3 linked regions of the Homo sapiens genome follow. The main gene of each other region encodes a partner of the protein of the gene in region 3 in a complex. Each region holds a gene or a part of one and is shown on either strand. Other genes may lie near its edges. A codon is read from its position in the direction of its gene.

The links.
Region 1: the proteins of DGCR8 (region 3) and DROSHA are in contact, whole or in part, in a crystal structure (PDB 5B16), measured with the Homo sapiens proteins. Residues at the interface, in NP_073557.3 of Homo sapiens: Asn728, Ile731, Leu732, Lys734, Leu735, Gln736, Glu738, Met739, Lys740, Leu742, Ala743, Arg746, Arg750; in NP_001369437.1 of Homo sapiens: Leu984, Leu987, Phe988, Thr998, Tyr999, Thr1001, Ala1002, Ile1003, Gln1005, His1008, Phe1069, Asp1073, Leu1074, Glu1076, Val1077, Trp1078, Asn1080, Pro1082.
Region 2: the proteins of DGCR8 (region 3) and ERH are in contact, whole or in part, in a crystal structure (PDB 7CNC), measured with the Homo sapiens proteins. Residues at the interface, in NP_073557.3 of Homo sapiens: Lys107, Phe108, Ser109, Pro110, Asp111, Leu112, Leu114, Leu115; in NP_004441.1 of Homo sapiens: Val8, Pro10, Thr11, Thr18, Tyr19, Ala20, Glu27, Lys34 (codon at 5,795), Met35 (codon at 5,792), His39 (codon at 5,780), Arg42 (codon at 5,771), Met43 (codon at 5,768), Phe60 (codon at 5,717), Leu64 (codon at 5,705).

The regions. Positions count from the first base shown.
Region 1 is NC_000005.10:31,466,056-31,473,160, reverse strand, and holds part of DROSHA (ribonuclease 3), read left to right. Parts: intron 1-928; coding exon 929-1,098; intron 1,099-5,097; coding exon 5,098-5,222; intron 5,223-6,879; coding exon 6,880-6,979; intron 6,980-7,105. UniProt on the Homo sapiens protein: Ribonuclease III double-stranded (ds) RNA-specific endoribonuclease that is involved in the initial step of microRNA (miRNA) biogenesis.
Region 2 is NC_000014.9:69,381,281-69,388,385, forward strand, and holds part of ERH (enhancer of rudimentary homolog), read right to left. Parts: intron 5,804-7,105; coding exon 5,683-5,803; intron 5,058-5,682; exon of another isoform or gene 4,766-5,057; intron 1-4,765. UniProt on the Homo sapiens protein: May have a role in the cell cycle.
Region 3 is NC_000022.11:20,075,224-20,083,318, forward strand, and holds the start of DGCR8 (microprocessor complex subunit DGCR8), read left to right. Parts: upstream 1-5,017; 5' UTR 5,018-5,160; intron 5,161-6,451; exon of another isoform or gene 6,452-8,095.

The sequences.
Region 1 (7,105 bases), on a different chromosome or scaffold from region 3:
TCCCTGAAGTGTTTGGTCCTGTACTACTGTTCATAGCCTATCTCATAACCTGGGAGAGGGTAATGATTGTCCTCTTCAGGGCTCTTGTCCTTTGTTTGGTTGGGTGTAGGCAAAGAAAAGAGATATAAAATGGTTGCCCATGTTGGTCCAGAAGTTAAGTCCAAAGAGAAGGCAGAAGCCTGTGGACCCCACATTAATGCCCAAATGAAGTGGATGTCTTTAGTTCATCAAATACTAGATTAATTGGCTTTTTCCAAGGTACTTGAATGATGCCCTTTGTTATTTTTATCCCCTGTACTTGGTGCTATATGCTTCTGTAGGCCTCAGAGCACTTGGTTTTTTTTCCATGTACTAACTCCATAATGATCTTCCATGATATTAGCACAGGCTCTTTAGCTCTGTTCATCATGGCAGGTGCAGCACATTAGCACCAAAAAATTAGACCATAATGCAACAACAGCTTATTGAAGACATCCATAAATATCTCACAAAAGCTTAGAATTTCCTTAAGACAGTAACATCACTTCTAAAGAGCTTTCATCTGTTACCTCAGAAAGAATGATAAAATATTTAAGACCTAACATGGTTCTGTATATTATAAACTATGGTTATTTATGCTAGGTGGCTTTAAATTTATTTAGATAGGCACCTTTTTTATATTCATACCTCACAAATGGAGCCTTTTATCATTTATAATGTTGTTGTTGCCAATTTAGTAAATGAGATGGTTTATGAGCACTGTTCATCAATGAAACAAATGGCTTTCATATTATTTGGCACCTGGTTAAACAGTGTAAATTTTACATTACCTTTTTGTATGTGCTCTTTTTCCTCCATTGTCTTGTTTTTTTCCTTATTCAGTTGTTGATTTGCTGTAAGTTGAGTAGCCTTATTTTTCCCCTTCTCTCCACTCCCATTCCCACCCAAGATGGAGGAAAGGAAGTGCTGTCCATGCACCAGATTCTCCTGTACTTGTTAAGGTGCAGCAAAGCCCTGGTGCCTGAGGAGGAGATTGCCAATATGCTTCAGTGGGAGGAGCTGGAGTGGCAGAAATATGCAGAAGAATGCAAAGGCATGATTGTTACCAACCCTGGGACGGTATGTTCTGGTGTCTGTATATTCAGAGGCTGGAGGACCTTCTTTTCCAGATCTGAATGTTTCATGAAAACAGTAACAGCACATTTTAAAAGTTTTAGGTAGTCACTGCTCTTGTCCTTGGATAATTTTTCCTTTAAATATTTAGTAAATAAGAAAATATTACAATTTAGGCATATTTGGTCGTAAATTCACCTAATTTAGTAAATTTATTCTACCTGAAGATAGGTACATTTTTAAGGCTTTTGACGCATGTTGCAGATTGCTTTCCAGAAGGGCTGTAAAATTTGTACTCTGGGAGCATATGAGAGCAACCATATCTTCATGCTGGTTATACTAAGGGAATTTGATGAGAGTTGGGGGGCGGGAAATGTCTTAGTTCAGTTTTGTATTTATTTTGATTTCTAAATGTTTATTGCCCATTCATGTTTTCTTTTGTTAATTGCTTGTTAATATCCTTTGATCTTTTTTGTAGCCTTCTTTTTTATTGATCCTCCGCCATAATTATTATAAATATTTTACATTTCTTTGGGTGCTACTTAAGTTTTTTGTTTTAAAATTAGCTTTTAATATTCAATTTTAGAAGTAAAAAATGCAAACATTAAAAGGATATAATTAAAAGAAAACTAGTTCTTATATAAAGACATAACATTTTCTTTATATCAATTTTTTTCTTCTAAATTAGTGTTACTGTTTCATAAAATAGTTATATGTTGGCATCTTATAAGGATAAAATTTTATAGAAATGAAGAATTAAAATATTTCCGTGAAAATAAATGGAATAATCTACTTAACAAAGCTGTTGTTTTCCAAAAAGCTGCCAATTGCTTAATAGCTTTGATTCATAAACTAAAAACTCTGGATCTACTTTTTGTAGCATGACAGTAACATCTGCACAAACAAAATGTTGCTATTTGCAAATAAAACATTCTGGCTAGTATGGATTCTTTTAAACAAATCCAGAAAGTAAAATTGTTTAATAAAAATATGTTTAAACATAAAACATGTTTAAAACCAGAAAATCGTATAATTTTTACTGTTATACTGTTAAGCCACATAATTATTAAAGTAACTTTAAAAGAAATATGTAAGTAATAACACTCTCAGAGTAAGACTGTGAATTCTATTTTTATTCTTAAAACAGTTGCATATATTGATATTCCCTCTGTCACTTTTCATGCTGAGTCAGAGGATGGGGCGGTGGTGGTGGCAGATGTCCAGTTTCAGCTGGGTGGTTCCACTTGGAGAGTTCCATGTTCTGTGGTAGACACGGGGGGAGCACGTTCACCCTGGACTTCCTTCCATGGTATAGTTACGTTTTCCTGAAATCTAGAATCAGCTGGAGAGTTTAAAAAAAAACTTAAGGATACCCTGGCTTAAGGATATAGCTACCTTATATACTCCAGGCAGTGAGGCCCAGTTTTCTGTAGTTAAAAAAAAATCCTCAAACGTTTGATTTTCTCACTGCTTGTTTTTGAGCCAGTGGCATAGATGAAGTTTATGATCACCATGATCATCATTCAACTAATTTGTCAAGGGACTACTATATGAGCCAGGTGCTAGTGAAGTTATATGTTAGGCTGGCACAAAAGTAGTTGCGGGGGTCTGCCATACCGCAACTATTTTTGCACCAAACTAATGTATGATGCTTGCCCAGGTGAAAACCCAAAGACCACTAACATATGAAAGGAGTCTTTGATGAATGGTTGAGCCAATGGATGCATCAGGAAAGCCTCTCATTTTAGGAGCTATCACTGGGATAGGCTTGCCAGGGGTGCTTCCTAAACAGTAAGATCTCTGAGGAATTGAGAAATTGTAGAAATTATTGGCATGATTAACTGTGCATCCTTGAGATGCTGTAAAGCCAGTATTAACAACATGAAGTCAGACCTAGTCAGTATGAAAGATTTTTATTGGAAGTTTCAGTGTCAGGCTTAGGAATGTGTTGAAGTTAATTCTTTTATACTGTTTATCTGAAGATATGCTTAAAGGAGGAAAAAAATCTTGAGAATTCAGTATTATGAAAACATCCTACTGAGAAGTGTGCAAGTTACTCATACGACAAGGTAGACACCACACTACATTTCATCCTCTGTAGGACTTGCTTTGAAAGATTGCAAAATGGCAAGAATATTGGGAAATTTATTAAAAATTTCAAGCCATTATGGTCACTTTAAATACTATATTGCTGCAGAACTTAAAAGAATTAATCTTCCAAGGAATACTTTTGTCATTAGTGACTTTTGTCATTTTTTATTCTTAAACAAAGATGGCATAATAAATGTTATAGGGTGTAGCCAAAGTCTAGAATATATTTCATTTCCTGCTCCCTCAACCCCTGCCATAAATTTAGAGATACTATAGATATTTTAAATCACTGTTTCCTGTGTTGGTACCATGGCATGGTGTTTAAAATCACAGAAACATGAATAATTCAATAGCATTCTATTCCACAGTTCGCATTCTAAAAATGTATCCTGCTGTTTTGTTGTACAAAATAATGAAAGTAATTCTTTGACCTTAAATAGCACGTTGCTACTGTTGATGGGCATTTAAATAATTTTATAATGGATTACATGTGAACAAAATATTTTCCATTTTCAAATTTTGAGAGCAGAGACCAACTTTTCAAGAAGCTAGTGACATTTTGTTTGTTAAATGACACTTAAAAAGTTTGAGGGGTTTTTTTTTTGTTTTGTTTTGTTTTTTGAGACAGAGTCTCACTCTGTTGCCCAGGCTGGAGCACAGTGGTGCGATCTCAGCTCACTACAACCTCCGCCTCCCGGGTTCAAGTGATTCTCCTGCCTCAGCCCCCTGAGTAGCTGGGACTACAGGTGTGCGCCACCACGCCCGGCTAATTTTTGTATTTTTAGTAGAGATGGGGTTTCACTATGTTGGCCAGGCTGGTCTCGAACTCCTGACCTCGTGATCCACCCGCCTTGGCCTCCCAAAGGTTTGAGTGTTTTAAGTAATGTGGGTGAATTCACCCAAGTTTATCCCTTTTGTCACCTCATTGAATATTTGTCAGATGGCTGGCTGGTATCACAGTTGTAGGTAGAGTGACCAGTTTGTCCCAGTTGCTGAGAGATTTCCTGGTTTTAGCATTGAAATTCCTCTGTCCCAGGGAAACCAGGCAGCCAACCAGACTCTAATTGTTGGGCATTGTTGTGGGACAGAATGAAGATTATTGGCCTCTGTGTGAATCAGTTTTAACAGCCTTAGCCTCCAAAGCAACTGAGCCGCAGACTCTACAGTGTGCTAGTGAAAACTGAATCTCTAATTGAGACTGTCCTGAGAGGTGATTATAAGGAAGGAGGTTGCTGAAACCTGTTCTCTGTGATTTTACCATCTTTTCATAAATTTAAGCTTTCAAGATGAAAGCCATTTCACAAATGATCCAGAAGGAATGAGCCATTCACTTCTTCCTTTATTAGACATGAAGAAAAAAATATGAGGCTCTCTGTTAAAATACACAAATGTCCTACATGGACATAATAAAAGAAGCTTAACTATTTGGCCTTTGCACCACTATACTTTCTAACTTAAAGATGTAGAATTAAAGGAATACATAAGATCCACTGAGAACAAGTGAGGGAAAAAACTTAAATAGAGGCATCTGTGCATTCTGAAATGTGAAATTAAAGCAGAAGAGGCTCTGCCTGTGATGTGGAATCCTTCCCCTGTGCCTTCAGAGAGGTTAAGGAAAAGTTATATCTGACTAGGTGTCCTTTTAAAAGTTTAATTTTTAAAGGTTTCTATGTGGACTGCAAAAAAGGACAAAATCATTGTTCATTATGCCAAATGGCATAGGCTCATTTACAAGGATGACATTATAGTTTTTAGATAGTATAGCTGCTGTAATTAAAGGGTTTTAAATGACCTTTTCCCTTTGGGGACAAGGCTTTCCTGGAAAAAAGTCCGATTTATTCCTTCCCTACTTAGGTTAAAGTCAATACATAAAGACTTCTTATGGGAATAAATGGCTTTGATTTTTCTCTCTAGAAACCAAGCTCTGTCCGTATCGATCAACTGGATCGTGAACAGTTCAACCCCGATGTGATTACTTTTCCGATTATCGTCCACTTTGGGATACGCCCTGCACAGTTGAGTTATGCAGGAGACCCACAGTAAGATATTTCTCAGTGTTTGTCTTAGCCAATTTCACCTTCTACTAACAGCCAAATTAGCAGAGAAATACCCTTTAGTGGATGTTTCCTTTTTAAAAATTAAGACCTGAAATGAGCCATACTTCCAATTTAGATTACCCAAATGAAACAATTGTGGTAGCTCCTGAAGAATTATTTTCTGTACATATTTGAGTGCAAGAAACTATTATTCAATAGAATATTTTTGGCAAACTTGGTCAACATAAGTCCTTGTATGTTTTTAAACTTTAAGGAACTTTTTCTTTATTCATCCTTATAATAATAATTATTATTTTTTATTTTTTCAGTGCCCTCTAGAGGAAAGTAGCACATATTGGTTCCTAGCACTGCCGAATTTATGCAGAGTTCTCTTTTTGGGGGCATCTTAAGAGTTCAAGATCACATGCAAAGTCAAGGTTGTGTTGGAAGTAGGAGCCGTGACTTCTGACTCTTAGGATTGATGTAACTTTCCACGTTTTGATTTTTCCAACTGGCATGTTAGTGTTTTCTGGGAGAAGATTTAGGATGTGTGGGAATGGAGATAGTACCATTAGATTCTTCGGGACTGTTTGGATTTCCTACCTTGCTAAACACACAAACAGCTTCCTGACTTATTTTTTTTTTTTTTTTAAAAAGGATTCATAGTGGGAGAAAAGGGCATGGGAGATTTTCAATTCATAAATACAGTTCTGGCTGACATATATTAGAAGAGGCTAAAGGGTTTTGTTCTTTTTTTTCCCCCTTTGGATAAAAGTATGAAGCAGTGAACCAGGCACTGTGTAAGTACTTCTTTCTTTCCTCCATTCTCTTAAAAAAAAAAAAAAAAGTTTTCAAAAAAGGAGAGGCCCAGCTAAGGCCAAGAAAGGAACAGTTTTAATGTGACAGAAAATCTTTGGAAAATCCCTTCTTGTCAGAAAAATGTTAGTAGAATGTGATGAGGCTCTCGTGGACTCTCAGATGGCAGGACTGTGAATTGATAAAGGACTGCATATTCGCTTCATTTCCAGGACGCTTTGACAGTATCCTTTAGACTGGTCTAGGTTATCACTTATTTGGCTGCAACAAATATGCTTATATTGTCATGGTAAATACAAATTGGTATACACCATTAGTCTTTTATCCTCTCCAGTGGACAAATGGATACAGCTATGTAGCTTGGGTTTTGGCACAAATGGGGTTCTCTATTCTAATACTCTTCAACTTATATTTGGTATAAGTAGTTCAGCAACTGACAGTCTCCCTAAGGAAGGGGTCTTTCTTTCAACAAATATCAGAAAGTGTATATTTAAATAAAATCTGTTATTTTCAAGAGGTAACAGTGAGAAACAGGATGATTCCTTTGGTTGAGGTGTTTTTGTGTCTTTGGAATTCTTTCCAGAGATTCATTCATATAGTCACACCTCATTTCCAACTGAAATAAGCAATAATCAACTTAATCACCAGGTTCCAGTTGACTCTTGTCCATCCTGACTCTCAGCCTCAAAGTCATAGCCTTCCTTAGAATGATGGCTTTCTGCCATTAAGAATAATCAAAAGAATGTAATGTATGATTTGAAGAGGCCTCTTAAAATAACTGGTTTTGTTGCATTTTAGGTTTACCTCCTCTTTACCTGAGATGTTTGCCTGTCCTTTTCCTTAGGTACCAAAAACTGTGGAAGAGTTATGTGAAACTTCGCCACCTCCTAGCAAATAGTCCCAAAGTCAAACAAACTGACAAACAGAAGCTGGCACAGAGGGAGGTCTGTATCAAACTCCATTCCTTGGTGATTAACGATGATGTGCTTCAGGTTTATTTCGTGATTGTTGTATCACACTATACTTCTGGTACAAGATGGAAAAATATTTTTTTAAAAAAATCATACTTT
Region 2 (7,105 bases), on a different chromosome or scaffold from region 3:
ACAATACTAGAACAAACTTTAGATTTGCAATGTTTATTCTGAATTAACTAAAAAACCTTTAAAAAACATGTACTGGCAACAAAGATTTCTTGCTAATTTCCTTCCCCCTGTAAAGTATTAAGGAAATCTTAAACCTATATTTTAGGATTTGCTTTTTAAAATAAATAATGCTAGAGGCCTATGGAGAAGAATTATCAGAAGATACAGTAAGCTCCAAAATATCTCTAATCAGAACGAAAAGGAGTACACAGACTAGCATTAGCAGTAAAACTCCAATGGGACTGTGAGTAGTATCTAGTAAGATGTCACAGAGTACTGGGTGTCGCTTTAAATTCTTATCTGAATTAACTCATTTTTACAACCCTGTGAGTAGGTACAATTATCCTCACTTCCCACCACCCCCACCACCGACCCCTGCTTTTTTTTGAGACAGAATCTCACTCTGTAACTCAGTCTGGAGTGCAGTGGTGCCATCTTGGCTCACTGCAACCTCTGCCACCTGGGTTCACATGATTCTCCTGCCTCAGCCTCCTGAGTAGGTAAGACTATAGGTGTGTGCCACCACGTCCAGCTAATGTTTTGTATTTTTAGTAGAGACCAGGTTTCACTATGTTGGCCAGGTTGGTCTTGAACTCCTGACCCTCAAGTGATCCAGCCGCCTCGGCCGCCCAAAGTGCTGGGATTACAGGCGTGAGCCACCGCACCTGGCCTCCTTTTTCATAAATGAGAAACCAAGGCTTTAAAAAGTGAAGCAAGTTATTAGCTAGGTAATGCTGGACTGGAGATAGATTTTAAATACTCCTGACTCCAGAGTCCTCACTGTTAATCACTAAGTTAGAAACCTAAACTACAATTTTTGGCAAGGGAAATAAATTCCAAAGTAGGAATGCTTTATACAATTAACATCATATTCTTCCTCTGAACAGTAAGGTCACAATCTGGTTTATTAAAAATGTACAAGATTCCCATTTTTAAAAATGCTTAACCAAATTTAAAAATTCTAAAATTTAATTTTTTCTGAAAACTCTTTGTCCATGCTTCCTAATTAAATAAGCTCTAAGCTAGTCTACTGCAAAATGTAGCAGAAGAGACTATAACATTTATATTAACACTGGAAAATAACTTAAAAAGGAACAAAATTTCTCACAATTATCATATCTGGGTGGGACAGGCTTTGTTTATACCATTCCCCCCAACAAAAATCACTCTGGTTTGTGAACATTAAGGAATCCATCAACTTGCATGCAATTTTCCAACTCATCAAATAGTAGGCCAGGTGCCAGTGGCTCATGCCTGTAATCCCAGCACTTTGGGAGGCTGAGGCAGGCGGGCCACAATGTCAAGAGATCAAGACCATCCTGACCAACATTGTGAAACCCCGTCTCCACCAAAAAAAAAAAATACAAAAATTAGCTGGGCGTGGTGGCGCGCACCTGTAGTCCCAGCTACTCGGGAGGCTGAGGCAGGAGAATCGCTTGAACCCTGGCGACAGTGCAAGACTCTATCTCCAAAAGAAAAAAAAAAAAAAAGCAATAATGCCTTCTTTATGGAAAGCTGTGTGTCGATGGCTGTTAACTGGCACTTGAAAATGAGACAATTAAATGTTAAATACTTTAATAAAATGCCTAGTCATTGGCACAGATGAATCTTTTAACCTATTGTTATGGTCAATGAATGTAGGTTTATATAAGAACAGAAGCTGTGGGTCTGGGCAGTGAAATCAGAAATGTCTTCAGTGATAACTTCTCTTACTGATCAGGAATACCTCTTGTCATTATAATAACTGACAGTTTAAATGTTCTTTATGTCTCTAAGCAAACAAGAAAATACTGCATAATCAAAAGGGCATTATTTTCATCTTACAAAAAGCTTATTTAAAAAACATACAGATCAGAAAACTGGAAAAATCTGACTCTGACTTTAAGTATACGAAATACAAATTTTCATGCCTACATTTTATTATTAATGCATGGTCAGTTTGCTCTGGGTTTAGTCATGTTACAAAGTAGAATCTTATTTATTCCATTTCCACCTACGCTGTTTAAAAAGAATTAATTTAAAAAAGTCCTAGGTCACTGCCATGTAAATTTAATAGAAACTATGAGCACACAACCATCTACAAACCAAAAACGGACCCAGTCTCTGGTCTGAGGAGTAACGGCCCAAATCACAGGATGTGCTGTGGCAGTGGGTTACCTCTTTGGAAACAATACCTTATTTCTCCTGAATATTCAAAGAACAAAAAGGACATAACCAAAGTCACCTGGGGAAAATAGTTTTAAATCCTAAATTTGATTCTGAAAGTTTTTCAGAGGCCAAAAAATTTTCAACATTAGAAACAAACAAATAGTTACAGGTTTTCAAGCTATGATAATTTACGGTTTTTAACACTCTGAAACTACTAAAAAACCATAAATTATCATTAACCTCTCTTCTATATTTCTGGAAATACTGTAGGTGGGAAGAATTATCTAGGTAATAATTAAAGCTTTCCCCCTATGTTGCTTTAATATAGCAAATATTGTATTAAAAATCAGTTTAGTATGCTAGATATGGTTTCTAGTTTACATTTTAAAGTCTAATGCAGCCGGGCACAGTTGCTCATGCCTGTAATATCACTCCTTGGGGAGGCTGAGGAAGGAGGATCACTTGAGCCCAGGAGTTTGAGACCAGCCTGGGTAATATAGCAAGACCCTGTCTCTAAAATTTTTTTTTTATAAAGTCTAGTACAAAGTTAGAAAAGTTATGTTATGTCATTAATGACATACTTGTATATCATTAACATGTCACTTGTAACTGTTTTACTCTGCTCAATTTTCATATTGTTGAAAAAACCTCAACACCTTTTAAATCTCCCTTGAAATTTATAATTTATCTCACACGTAGACATTAAAATTCATATCATTCTACTCCTGGCAAATTTAAGAACATGCTTGTAATTAAAAATAAAACTCTATCCTGACTTCTTCAATCTAGTTGAAAAGGGAGTTGCTGCATATCTAATAATGCTGTGCTCAGCAAGCACTTGATCCTCACAAGGAGTCTTATGAACTAGATTTGTCTGAATTTTACAAATTAGCAAACTAAAGTTTAGCAATACAAAGCTGCCTTGTCAAAGGGAGCTAGCAAATGGTAGACCCAGGATTCAAACCCAGCTATGTCTAATTCTGCCACTCCAGCTAGCTCTTAACCACAGCCTCCCAAGACAAGTAAAACATGATCCTTTGCTTCAAGTTTACTTCCCACTTACTGGGAGTAAGTATGACATCCCAAAAGCGTCAGGATTACATCCTGAATGTTTCAGTAAGGTTCTTTTATAAAACCATAAAGACAACCATTAATTTTTAATCAATGCAGAATATAGCTCTGTAATATAAATAAGGGAAATAGAAAATTATCAATAATTTTAGAAAGCTATTCCTCAAATAACAACACAAGTGACGTGCATTTATATAACCAATATTTACTCAGCACTAATTATGTACCAGAGATGCAGCAGTGAACAAACACAAAGCAACTTCTTCTTAAATTCTATCAATTAATATACACATTATTGGTAATTTCATATCCAGTGGATGATTCTGTCAACACTTAGGCCTCCCAATTCCATGAAGTCTTTTCCTCTAATGATCTCATCTCCTACCCTCTCTTGGCCAGATCCCTAGACCTTGTCATTTCCAACTACTTCAATTTCCTAATTTCAAGCATGTCATTCTCTGATCACCACTTCCTAACACTCTAATGTGAGCAATCCTTGATCCAGTGGGACCTACAATGAACTGATCTACCTCTGTTTCCAGCACCTCCTCCTACACCCCCAATTAAAGCTCATGGTCATTCAGTCGTTGCTGTTGTCCTCATATATGCCCTCAACCTTTAGCAAAATCTTTACTCTCTACCTACTCCTCACCTGTAACCATCCAGGTGAGAGAGACTAGGAAAAAAATCCCATGATCACAATGACTGATTTCACTTTAAATCACTATCAGATAGGTACTTTGGAGGACACTTAATGCATCCCTGAATTAATTGCAGTTCCCTAATTCTTTCACCTTCCTAGCTTATTTCTTACTTTTCCACAAACCTGTAACACCTGTTTCAAATGATGTCCTTGCTCCTTATCTTTCTGAGATAACTGAAGCATACAGAAGATAATTCCCCCCAGCTCCCAAATTTGCCTGTCCTCCCTTTTTTATGATTGAACTGTCCAAGAGCCAATTTGAGCTATCAGTTTCTCCTTCTCTGGTACATCATCCCATCAGCCTGCAAACTTACCATTACTTTTCCCACTTAAAAAAAAGCAATTTCTTTCTCCAGCTACAACCCCATTTTTCTGTTCTTTCAAGCAAAATTCTTTAAATAAAAAAAAGGAAAAAAAAAAAAAAAGCAAGCCTGTAATGGCCACCTATAAATCCTCTCTTTTCATTCCCTTCCATACACTGAAATCTGTAAGCATTTTACTCCTGGCACTCTACCACAACCGTTCTGGAAGTCACCAAAGACTTCCACAGTGTCAAATCCAGGGGTCAATTAAATTCTCAGTCCTCACATATCTGTCCTATCAATGATATGACACACTTCTGCATTTGGCTTCCAGGATATCATTGCTCCCTGCTCCTCCAATCTCCTAAGACACTCTCCTTCACTCATTCCTCTGCAGCCTCAAAGGCTTCCTTAATGACTTCAAACATGCTAGGCACTCCTACTTCAGGACTTCTACACTAGCTGTCCCTCATCCCCTCTGTCTGGTATGTTTTTCCTATAGATGTCTGAATGGCTTAAAGTACCATGCAACATTCATTTGAATGTTCTGAGTGATCAAAGTGAAATGGCTACAACCGGAACACAATGAAGAGGTACAGAAAACAAAACTCAAACATCCCAAGGAAATGCGTGTTTTGGAACTTTTGGGGAGACAGCATGGTGCAGCCACATTCCATGATTGGCTCCAGTGGTGATCCAGGAAGTGCCTATGAGTAAGACTTGTATATTTCTCATCACTGCTCTTTCAACTTCTAGCACAGCACCTGACATGTAATAAATATTCAAGTATCTGATGATTGAGTATTGTATCATAAGGTGCTTCCATTTTCCTCGGTTAAATGAGCTGTATTTACACTCAATTTCTGTTCGCTAATGTAAAAAAGATTAGGTAAGTCTACAGTAACACTTTATGCTCCTTGTTAGTAATTGTCAGAAGCAGATTATCAATACAAACTATAACAAATATGTTAAAAAATCTCACTCTAACATACCAAAATATACGTACTTACACAGCGTAGGATTGAAATTAAATTTCAGCTATACGCATATTTAAGTTTTTGAAATGTCATGAAAAAAAGATAATCTTAGTTTTAATCCAAAACCAATGGCTTTAAGACAAAGACTGTAAAGGAAAAAAAAAATTAGGTATAAGGAACAAAGAAGAGGCACATGGAACTTCTGAATTAGGATCCTTTCTGGATACTAACTATATCAATTAGCAAAGTTATTTTTTTCTGTGCCTTTGGCTTTATGTTGCCAATCTCTTATTTCTGTAAGAGAAATATTAATTACTATACACTATGCAAATGCAAAGATCAGTATCAGGCACATAATTAGCTCCCAATACCATAAATCACCTCAAACAGACAGAAAAGCAATAGAAAATACAAGATAAAAGACATGTTGGCTAATACTTACACCAGGCAGCTGAGGTCTGCCAGATCATCGATGAAATCAAACAACTGACTGATGTCATATGTGATAGAGGGACTGTTGGGATTCATTCTTTTCAGATGTTCTTCATACATTTTACAAACACCTAAGAAAGGATAGGAAAAAAAGCAAAATCTTACAATCGCATACACTTCTAGATATGAGCAGTGCTTATGAGCTGTGCTATATGTTGATATCATATTTACTTTAATAAAGTTGGGCTGGGGAAAAGATGATAGATTGATGGCTTTTGATTATTGCCACTAGCAAATACTTTTTTATTTTATAAATTCACCAGGTCAGGTGTAGTGGCTTACGCCTGTAATCCCAGCTCTTTGGGAGGCTGAGGCAGGAGCATCACTTGAGCCCCACAGTTTAAGACCAGCCTGCCTGGGCAACACAGGGAGACCTCATCTCTACAAAAATTAAAAAATTAGCCAGGCGTGATGGCGTGTGCTTGTGGTCCCAGCTACCTGGGAAGCTGAGGTGGGAGAATCACTTGGCTGCAGTGAGCCGTGATTGCATCACTGCACTCCAGTCTGGGCAGCTGAGAAATTCACCACAATGTTGATGTAACTATTTTGTGTCTTAATAATAAAATGATTACTTCAAACCACTGGAGCTAAGGGGCTTTAAAGACTTGCCATCTGATGGCTCAAACAAATAACACTGTGGGTCTTAACAGGTTTTTCAGTAATTCTTCCTAAAGCCACAGAGCAAAAAAAAAAAAAAAATTGGCAACAAGGAAAGAGATTATCCTAATGTATATTTAAGATCCTAGACTAGGCCGGGCACAGTGGCTCACGCCTGTAATCCCAGCACTTTGGGAGGCCAAGGCGGGCGGATCACGAGGTCAGGAGATAGAGACCATCCTGGCCAACACAGTGAAACCCTGTCTCTACTAAAAAAATACAAAAAATTAGCCAGGCATGGTGGCAGGCACCTGTAGCCCCAGCTACTCGGGAGGCTGAAGCAGGAGAATGGCATGAACCTGGGAGGTGGAGATTGCAGTGAGCCGAGATCGGCCACTGCACTCCAGCCCGGGTGACAGAGCAAGACTCTGTCTCAAACAAACAAACAAACAAAAAATCCTAGACTATGGATTCAGACAGACTTTAGTTCCAACTCTGCCCCTGTCAAACCGAGGACAAACGACGCCATTCCCTGAACCACACCTGTCAAACAGAGTTAAGAGTGCCTCTTCATAGAATTGTGAGGTTTATTTGAAATAATACACATAAAGCATTAGCACATGAACAAGGATATAAGTACTTAAATATAATAAAAAAGATAATGAGCAAAATCATTAATAGCAAGCCCACATTACTAATTATAATTAGCTATAGAGTATATTATCTATTTAGTTTTTATTCAATAATACTCTCCTTTTTTTTTTCTTTGAGATGGA
Region 3 (8,095 bases):
TCTCAAAAATAAAAAGTAAAATAATAATAATAATAATAAAAGGTAAACAGAAATCTTCATAATCTCAAATACTGTAAGAAAACTTTGTCATTTCAACAGAGAAGATCAAGTTAAAGTTCTGCATCATAGCACTACTAATAAAGCTAATTTTAACAAAACCTTATAAATGAATCCATCCAATCTCATGCAAGATAATATTTCTTTTCCAAGATTTCTTTTCTATAGATCTTTTACAACTTAAAAAAAATATCTGGCCGGGCACGGTGGCTCATGCCTGTAATCCCAGCACTTTGGGAGGCCGAGGCGGGTGGATCATGAGGTGAGGAGATCGAGACCAGCCTGGCTAACACGGTGAAACCCTGTCTCTACTAAAAATATAAAAAATTAGCCAGGTATGGTGGCGGGCAGCTGTAGTTCCAGCTACTCGGGAGGCTGAGGCAGGAGCATGGCGTGAACCCGGGAGGCAGAGGTTTCAGTGAGTCGAGATCTTGCCACTGCACTCCAGCCTGGGTGACACAGAGAGATGCCATCTCAAAAAAAAAAAATCTATCAGTACTTTTTTTCCCCTACATTTTTTTTCTTTCTCATTCTGGAACAACCAGTTGCTATATATATTAGCACAGAGTCAGTTATTCCTTTAAGGGATTTTATAAATTAATTTGGTGCTACTATCTGGAGGTAGAAAAATATCATGTATATATAACATACAAACATACATATGTAGTTGCTCTGCAACTGAAGTTGGCAGAGGCCAGACCCAGTGGCTCACGCCTGTAATCCCAGCACTTTGGGAGGCCAAGGCAGGCAGATCACTTAAGGCCAGGAGTTTGAGACCAGTCTTGCCAACATGGTGAAACCTGGTCTCTACAAAAATACAAAAAAATCAGCTGGGCGTAGTGGCGTGCGCTTATAGTCCCAGCTACCTTGGAGACTGAGGCAGGAGAATAGCTTGAACCCAGGAGGTGGAGGCTGCAGTGAGCCGAGACTGCGCCACTGCACTCCAGCCTGGGTGACCCAGTGAGTCTCTGTCTTAAATAAATACATAAATAAATAAACAAACAAATAAATAAAGTTGGCAGAGTATATAGTCTGAAGGGGTTTGAGGAAAGGGGATTCAGGTGACTGAGAAGTTCCGATGGGAGAAGTAGGATCCAATAGAGAGAACAGAGAGGCCTCACAGTGGGAAGAAAAGACTGCCAGCCCAGGAGTCAGGGAGTGAATCCCCATTCAGAATGAAGAGCCACAAGGAAGACCTTCCAACCCAGGAAGTATTATACCTTTCAAAAGAAGGCTGGGACCTTAAAAATCAAAATCTGTCCTTACCAGCTAAAATAAAAGTTTTTCTACAGTCATGGCTCAGGAGTTTGACTCACCAGTAGATCCCCAATCAGCCAGTCAGAAGACAAAGGCTGCAAAGTTGCACATTGAGAGTCCTGGGTCAGAGGCCTGTGGCACCACAACCATTAAAGAAAAAAATTATTCAGCCCTTGTCAAAGCACGGTCGGGAAGGCCTTATTCAGGAGCATTGCCACTGGCATATGGACCACAGGCAATGGGGTTTTGCTGCAGGGGAGAGATTGGGCTGAACTCTGAATACAGCATGGACAAGTGTGAACTGATAGCCAAGGAGCAGGGCGGGGGTCAGTGGATGAAAAATTACTAAGAAGAAACATAAGTGATAAGGGGGATACTGGCTAAGCTGACCTAAGAGGATTCTTGCTGAAGACAGGCTGGGGTGATCAGACATCACCTAGAGGATGGTGGAGGGATGAGGAATTTCATCAGTATTGAGGGCGATCAGATATCAAAAGCAGGGTGGTTCTTGCTAAACTGGAATTCTCAGACGGGCCTAGAAGATTTAGGAGCCTGACTAAAGTTTGGCCAAGCAAATAATCTTTTGTCAATACAACAACACGATACTTTTTACTGTTTGTTTTTTTTTTTTTTTTTTTTTTTTTTTTTTTTGAGACAGAGTCTCCTGCTGTCTCCCAGGCTGGAGTGCAGTGGCGCGATCTCAGCTCACTGCAACCTTTGCATCCCGGGTTCAAGCAATTCTCCTGCCTCAGCCTCCCAAGTAGCTGCAACTACAGGTGCGTGCCACCATGCCCGGCTAATGTTTTTGTATTTTTAGTAGAGACGGGGTTTCACCCTGTTAGCCAGGATGGTCTCGATCTCCTGACCTCGTGATCTGCCTGCCTCAGCCTCCCAAAGTGCTGGGATTACAGGCGTGAGCCACCGCGCCAGGCCAATACAATAGTATTAACTAATCTACAGACCTTGTTTGAATTATATCAATTGTCCCATTAATGTCCCTTTTCTGAGCCAGGATCCCATCTATCGTCTGGATTCCACACTGCATTTTGTTATCTCTTTTAATTGAAGATGGCTCCTCAGTCCATCTTTGACTTGAATGATCTCGATACTTGAAAAGCACTGGCTGGTAATTTTGCAGAATGCCCCTAATTTGGGGTTTGTCTGCTCTTCATTCAGATTCTGCCTTTTGGGCAAAAATACCCACAAGTGAACTTGTGTTCTTCTCAGGAGGTCCACAGTATGTCCTCTTACTGGAACTAACTTTTTTCATTTCTATTGAGGCAGAATTTATATACAATGCAATACACATGTTTAAATGGTACAATTTGCTAAGTTTGCTGGTGACCTTGATGGCTTGGTTAAAGGTGGTGTCGCCCAAGTTTTCTTCCACTCTAAAACTACTATTTTCCCTAGGCAATTAGTATCCTGGGGGAGAAACTTTGCAACACTGAAAACAAAACAAAACCTGTTTGTCATGTTTTTGCCCACTATTTTTTTTTTTTTTTGAGATGGAGTCTCACTCTGTCACCCAGGCTGGAGTGCAGTGGCGTGATCCCGGCTCACCACAACCTCTGCCTCCCAGGTTCAAGTGATTCTCCTGCCTTGGCCTCCCGAGTAGCTGGGACTACAGGCACGTGCCACCATGCCCAGCTAATTTTTTTTGTAGTTTTAGTAGAGACGAGGTTTCACCATCTTGGCCAGGATGGTCTTGATCTCTTGACCTCGTGACCCACCCGCCTCGGCCTCCCAAAGTGCTGGGATTACAGGCGTAAGCCACTGTGCCTGGCCTAATTTTTTTGTAGGGGGTTGGGGGCCGGGGACCGAGTCTCGTTCTGTTGCCCATGCTGGAGTGCAGTGGCTGGATCTTGGCTCACTGCAACTCCTGCCTCCCAGGTTCAAGCAATTCTCCAGCTTCAGCCTCCGTAGCTGGGACAACAGGCACCTGCCACCAAGCCCTGCTATTTTTTTTTGTATTTATAGTAGAGACAGGGTTTCACCATGTTGGTCAGGCTGGTCTCGAACTCCTAACCTCAAGTGATCCGCCCGCCTCGGCCTCCCAAAGTGCTGGGATTACACGCATGAGCCACTGTGCCTGGCCTTGCTCACTATTTTTTCTGGAGACGGTCTCGTTCTGTCACCCAGGTTGGAGTGCAGTGGCCCGATCTCAGATCATTGCAACCTCCACCTCCCGGGTTCAAGCGATTCTCCTGCCTCAGCCTCCCGAGTAGCTGGGATTACAGGTGCCTGCTACCACGCCTGGCTACTTTTTGTATTTTCAGTAGAGATAAGGTTTCGCCACGTTGCCCAAGCTGGTGTGGAACTCTTGAGCTCAGGTGATCCGCCTGCTTCGGCCTCCCAAAGTACTGGGGTTACAGGCGTGAGCCACAGGGCCCGGCCCACTATTTTTATCACTCAAGATTTTCGTCTACAGCAGCTATTATTGGGGTGGCTACCCAGTGGAAAATTTTTCTATTTCCACTATTCCTTCCACATTTATTGACAGGAAAGCTAGTCTAAGGAAGAGCTGTACCCTCACTTACTCAGACCCTCGTTTTCCTTTTTTTTTTTTTTTTTTTTGAGACGGAGTCTCACTCTGCCGCCCAGGCTAGAGTGAAAGTGGTGCTATCTCGGATCACTGCAGCCTGGAACTCCTGGACTCAGGTGATCCTTCCACCTCAGCCTCCCGAGTAGCTCGGACCACAGGCGCCCGCCACCACGCGGCTAATTAAAAATAATTTTGGGCCCGGCGCGGTGGCTCATGCCTGTAATCCCAGCACTTTGGGAGGCCGAGGCGGGCAGATCAATTGAGGCCAGGAGTTTGATACCAGCCTGGCCAACATGGTGAAACCCCGTCTCTACCAAAAATATAAAAATTAGCCGGGCGTGGTGGTGGGCGCCTGTAATCCCAGTTACTCGGGTGGGTGAGCCAGGAGAATCGCTTGAATCCGGGAGGCAAAGGTTGCAGTGAGCTGAGATCGCGCCACTGCACCCCAGCCTGGGAGACAAAGCGAGACACCGCCTCAAAAAAAAAAAAAAAAAGAAAGAAAATTTGTAGATACTGGGCTCTCACTATGTTAGCCAGGCTGGTCTCGAACTCCTGGGCTCAAGTAATCCTCCTGACTCGACCTCCCAAAACTCTGGGATTACAGGCGCAAGCCACCGTGCCCGGCCGAACCACCGTGCCCGGCCGAACCCTCCCTGTTTTGGAAATCCTGTATTAGCAAAGGGGACAGCGCCAGACAGTTGAGCACACGCGTTCTTTATAAATGATGATGTCTGATACAGTGATGCTTTTAACAGGGTTGTGTAACGCCTGTGTGTGCACGGTCTCTTCTGCAGTGTCCACCGAAGGTGGCCCGTCTGCGTGTCCGCTCCCGGCGTACTCCGCGCTCCCTGTTCCCGGCATTCCCCGCGCTCCCCGAGCTTCCCGCGCTCCCCTGCTCCCGGCATTCCCGGTGCTTCCCGTTCCCGGCGCTCCTCGCGGCCGCCGCCCTCAGTCCAGCGAGCCCCGCCTGGGCAGCGACTGTTAGCGCGACCGCGGCCTGGGCGCCTGGTCCCTCCCGCGCGGCCGCGCTATTGGGCCGCGCGCGGCGGACACACGCGCTACGCGCCGCCGATTGGCGGCCTCCGCAGCGCGCTCTGCGGCTCCCCCAATGCGGGGCGGCCGCGCGCGGGGATTGGCCGCACGCCGCGAAGGCCCGCCCTCCGCTCGCCCGGCGCGGCAGGCGGGTGCCGGCGACCGGAGAGCCTGGACAGGCTTTCCAGATGGCTGCGGCGGTCGGTCGGTGAGGCTTTCCCGGCTGTGGTTTGGCTGCGGGCGGCTTGGGCAGCCCGCGGGCGCCTCAGGTAGGTGCGGGGCGCGAGGGGCGCCCGCGGGCGGTTGGGCGGGCGCCGCGGCCTGCGCGAGGGCGCGCCCTTCCCTCCCGCCTCCCTCCGGGACCGAGGCCGCGGGCGGGGCGGGGGCGCGGAGCCCGGCCTTTGTGAGGCAACATGGCCGCGGGCGGTGGAGAGCGCGGGGTGGGGACGCCTCCGGGGCTGGGGGGCGGGCCCCGGGCCCAGGCGTTGCCGACTCTCGTCGCTGTCCGCCCGGGTAAAGAGGCTCCTCTCCCGGAGGGCCCGAAGCCTAGCATCGCCTTCAGGCGGGAAAGGTGTGGACAGGGCCAGTGCTCGCCTGGGACCCTGCCGGCTTTAACACAGTTTGGGAAATCCAAGAAGTCGCCTAAGTCTTTTTGTCCACAGAATGCTCACGGGTTGAGTGTCACGTAGATAATTGGGATACGGTTTTATTGTAACAATGAGCATGGCGGAAATAAATGGAAGGTGGCAACCTGTTGACAGTGATGCCTGTCTGGTGTCAACCGATGGACTTGGGTTTCTTGTGGCAGGAGTCTGATTTGCCTTTTTGCATGCTTGCATGTACCTTGTTCCTGCACGGCAGTCCTGTCTTTGGCTGTCGACTGTTCGAGGCCAACCACCAGGCGAGGATCCACTGTTTCCTGGCCAGACTAGACTCCCAGCTGTGGGAGTGGCCCAAACCCTGCTGCAGGCCTTCACTCACAAAAGGGAGTGAATGGCCAGCCCGGGGTACCCAGTGTTGCCTCTAAGTGCGGGATATGAGGCCTGTTGGAGGATGACAAAAGGAACGGATGAGGTCATACTGCCGCTGGGTTGGGCGGGAGGCTGCAGCGGGAGAGACTTGACCAAAAGGCAGCCTCCATGGCGCTGGCACTGGTGCTGGCCCGTCACAGCCAGTGCCTCTGTTAGCCAACACAGCAAGTGGGCTAGGAGGAAGGGTGCTGTCCAAGTGTACGGGTTTTCTCCCCGTGCCAAGGGTCCAGGGGAGCTTGCCGTGAGCCCGTTCCTGTCCGATAGTCCTGTTGGCAAGGCAGGGTTTGCATGCGGTGTTTGGTCAGCTGGAGCAGTGGGGAGGCCTACGGGCAGAGAGCTCCCCTTTGAGCCCTTTGCGGCCAGGCGCTGTGTGGAGCACTTCCCAGGGGTTGTTTTGTAGTCTCACCGTGACCTTGGGGTAGGAAATGTGCTTCTGGCTGGCTTGCCCAGTCTTAGACTCTCTTGTTGTAGCCCTCTCCTTTGTGATGTCACCCAGCCTCCTGACTTTAATGCCAGCTTTCCTTGACATCTTCACAGCTCCAGCCCTGGCCTCTCTTCTGATTTCCAGCCTGGTGTTTCTGGCCACCTCTTCCATATCTCCATGTGTTACTTTGGCGCCAAGTAGCCATATCCAAACCAAACTCAAATCTTCACCCATGCCAAAACATTCCTTGGCCTATCTAAAGTCCCTTTGATTCCTCTCTTTCTTACACCTTCATGCAGTCCTAAGGAGGCCCCGTCAGCTCACCTATTTCTAAGCACAGACCATTTCTCACCACCTTCAAGTTAACATCCTGGCCCAGCCTACCTGGTGAGCCTCTAATTCTCTTTACTGTCACCTTAGGTCCTCACTCCCCATCCACCATCTATAGTTTTTCTGGACACAGAGTGATTCTTCTTTCTTTCTTTTTTTTTTTTTTTGTTTTTTTGAGACAGAATCTCGCTCTGTCGCCCAGACTGGAGTGCAGTGGCGTGATCTCAGCTCACTGCAACTTCTGCCTCCCGGGTTCAAGCGATTCTCCTGCCTCAGCCTCCCAAGTAGCTGGGACTGCAGGCGTCCACCACCACCACGCCCGGCTGATTTTTGTATTTTTAGTAGAGACGGGGTTTCACCATGTTGGCCAGGCTGGTCTCGAACTCCTGGCCTCAAATGATCTGCCTGCCTCAGCCTTCCAGAGCGCTGGGATTACAGGCGTGAGCCACTGTGCCTGGCCACAGAGTGATTCTTTTTATTTTTTTGAGACAGAGTCTCGCTTTGTTGCTCAGGCTGGAGTGCAGTGGTGCGATCTCCCGCTCACTGTAAGCTTCGCCTCCTGGGTTCAAGCCATTCTCCTGCCTCAGCCTCCCGAGTAGCTGGGACTATAGGCGCCCACCACCACACTCGGCTAATTTTTTGTATTTTTAATAGAGACGGGGTTTCAATGTGTTAGCCAGGGTGGTGTCGATCTCCTGACCTTGTGGTCCGCCTGCCTCAGCCTCCCAAAGTGCTGGGATTACAGTCGTGCACCACCGCGCCCGGCCCAGAGTGGTTCTTTTAAACCATAAGATGGTATAAAACAGAGGCGGTGTAGATGCAAGCCAGCTTGCCTGCTTGTAAAGCAGCTCCATCACTTCCTGGCTGTATGACCTTGAGCATGTGGGTGAACCTTTCTTCCATAATGCTATGTGAGACCTGGGTGAGTTAAAATGCTTAAAGTGCTTAGAACAGGGCCTGGCTGAGGTTTGGTTGCCACTGCTATCCTGGAATCAGCTGATGCCACTGTGTGGGCCTTCCTATCCGGTGGCCCATCTCTCTCACTAAGAGCCAAAGTCCTGGCAGCAGCCTGGGAGGACCAGCCCTGATCCATCTGCCCTCATGGACTTGGCCCACTGTCACGTCCCCTCAGCACACTGCCCCAGCTGGCCACACCACATTCCTGACCCCAGCCCTCTGCTTTTCCTCTCAGTGTCACCTGGAACATCCCCTCCTCCCAGCCCTGTAACCCACCTGGCTCACTCCTGCCTTCACGTGGATGCAGGCCATGAGGCCTTCTTGGATCCCCCTTCCTAAAACTGCCTCCCCTTCTTCAGGCGCTTTCCTTGTTTTGTTTTTGCTTGAATACTTCTTGGCATGTGACAGGGTGCATGCTTTTCTTAGTTGTTAGCGGTCCATCTCCCCCACTAAAATGTGAGC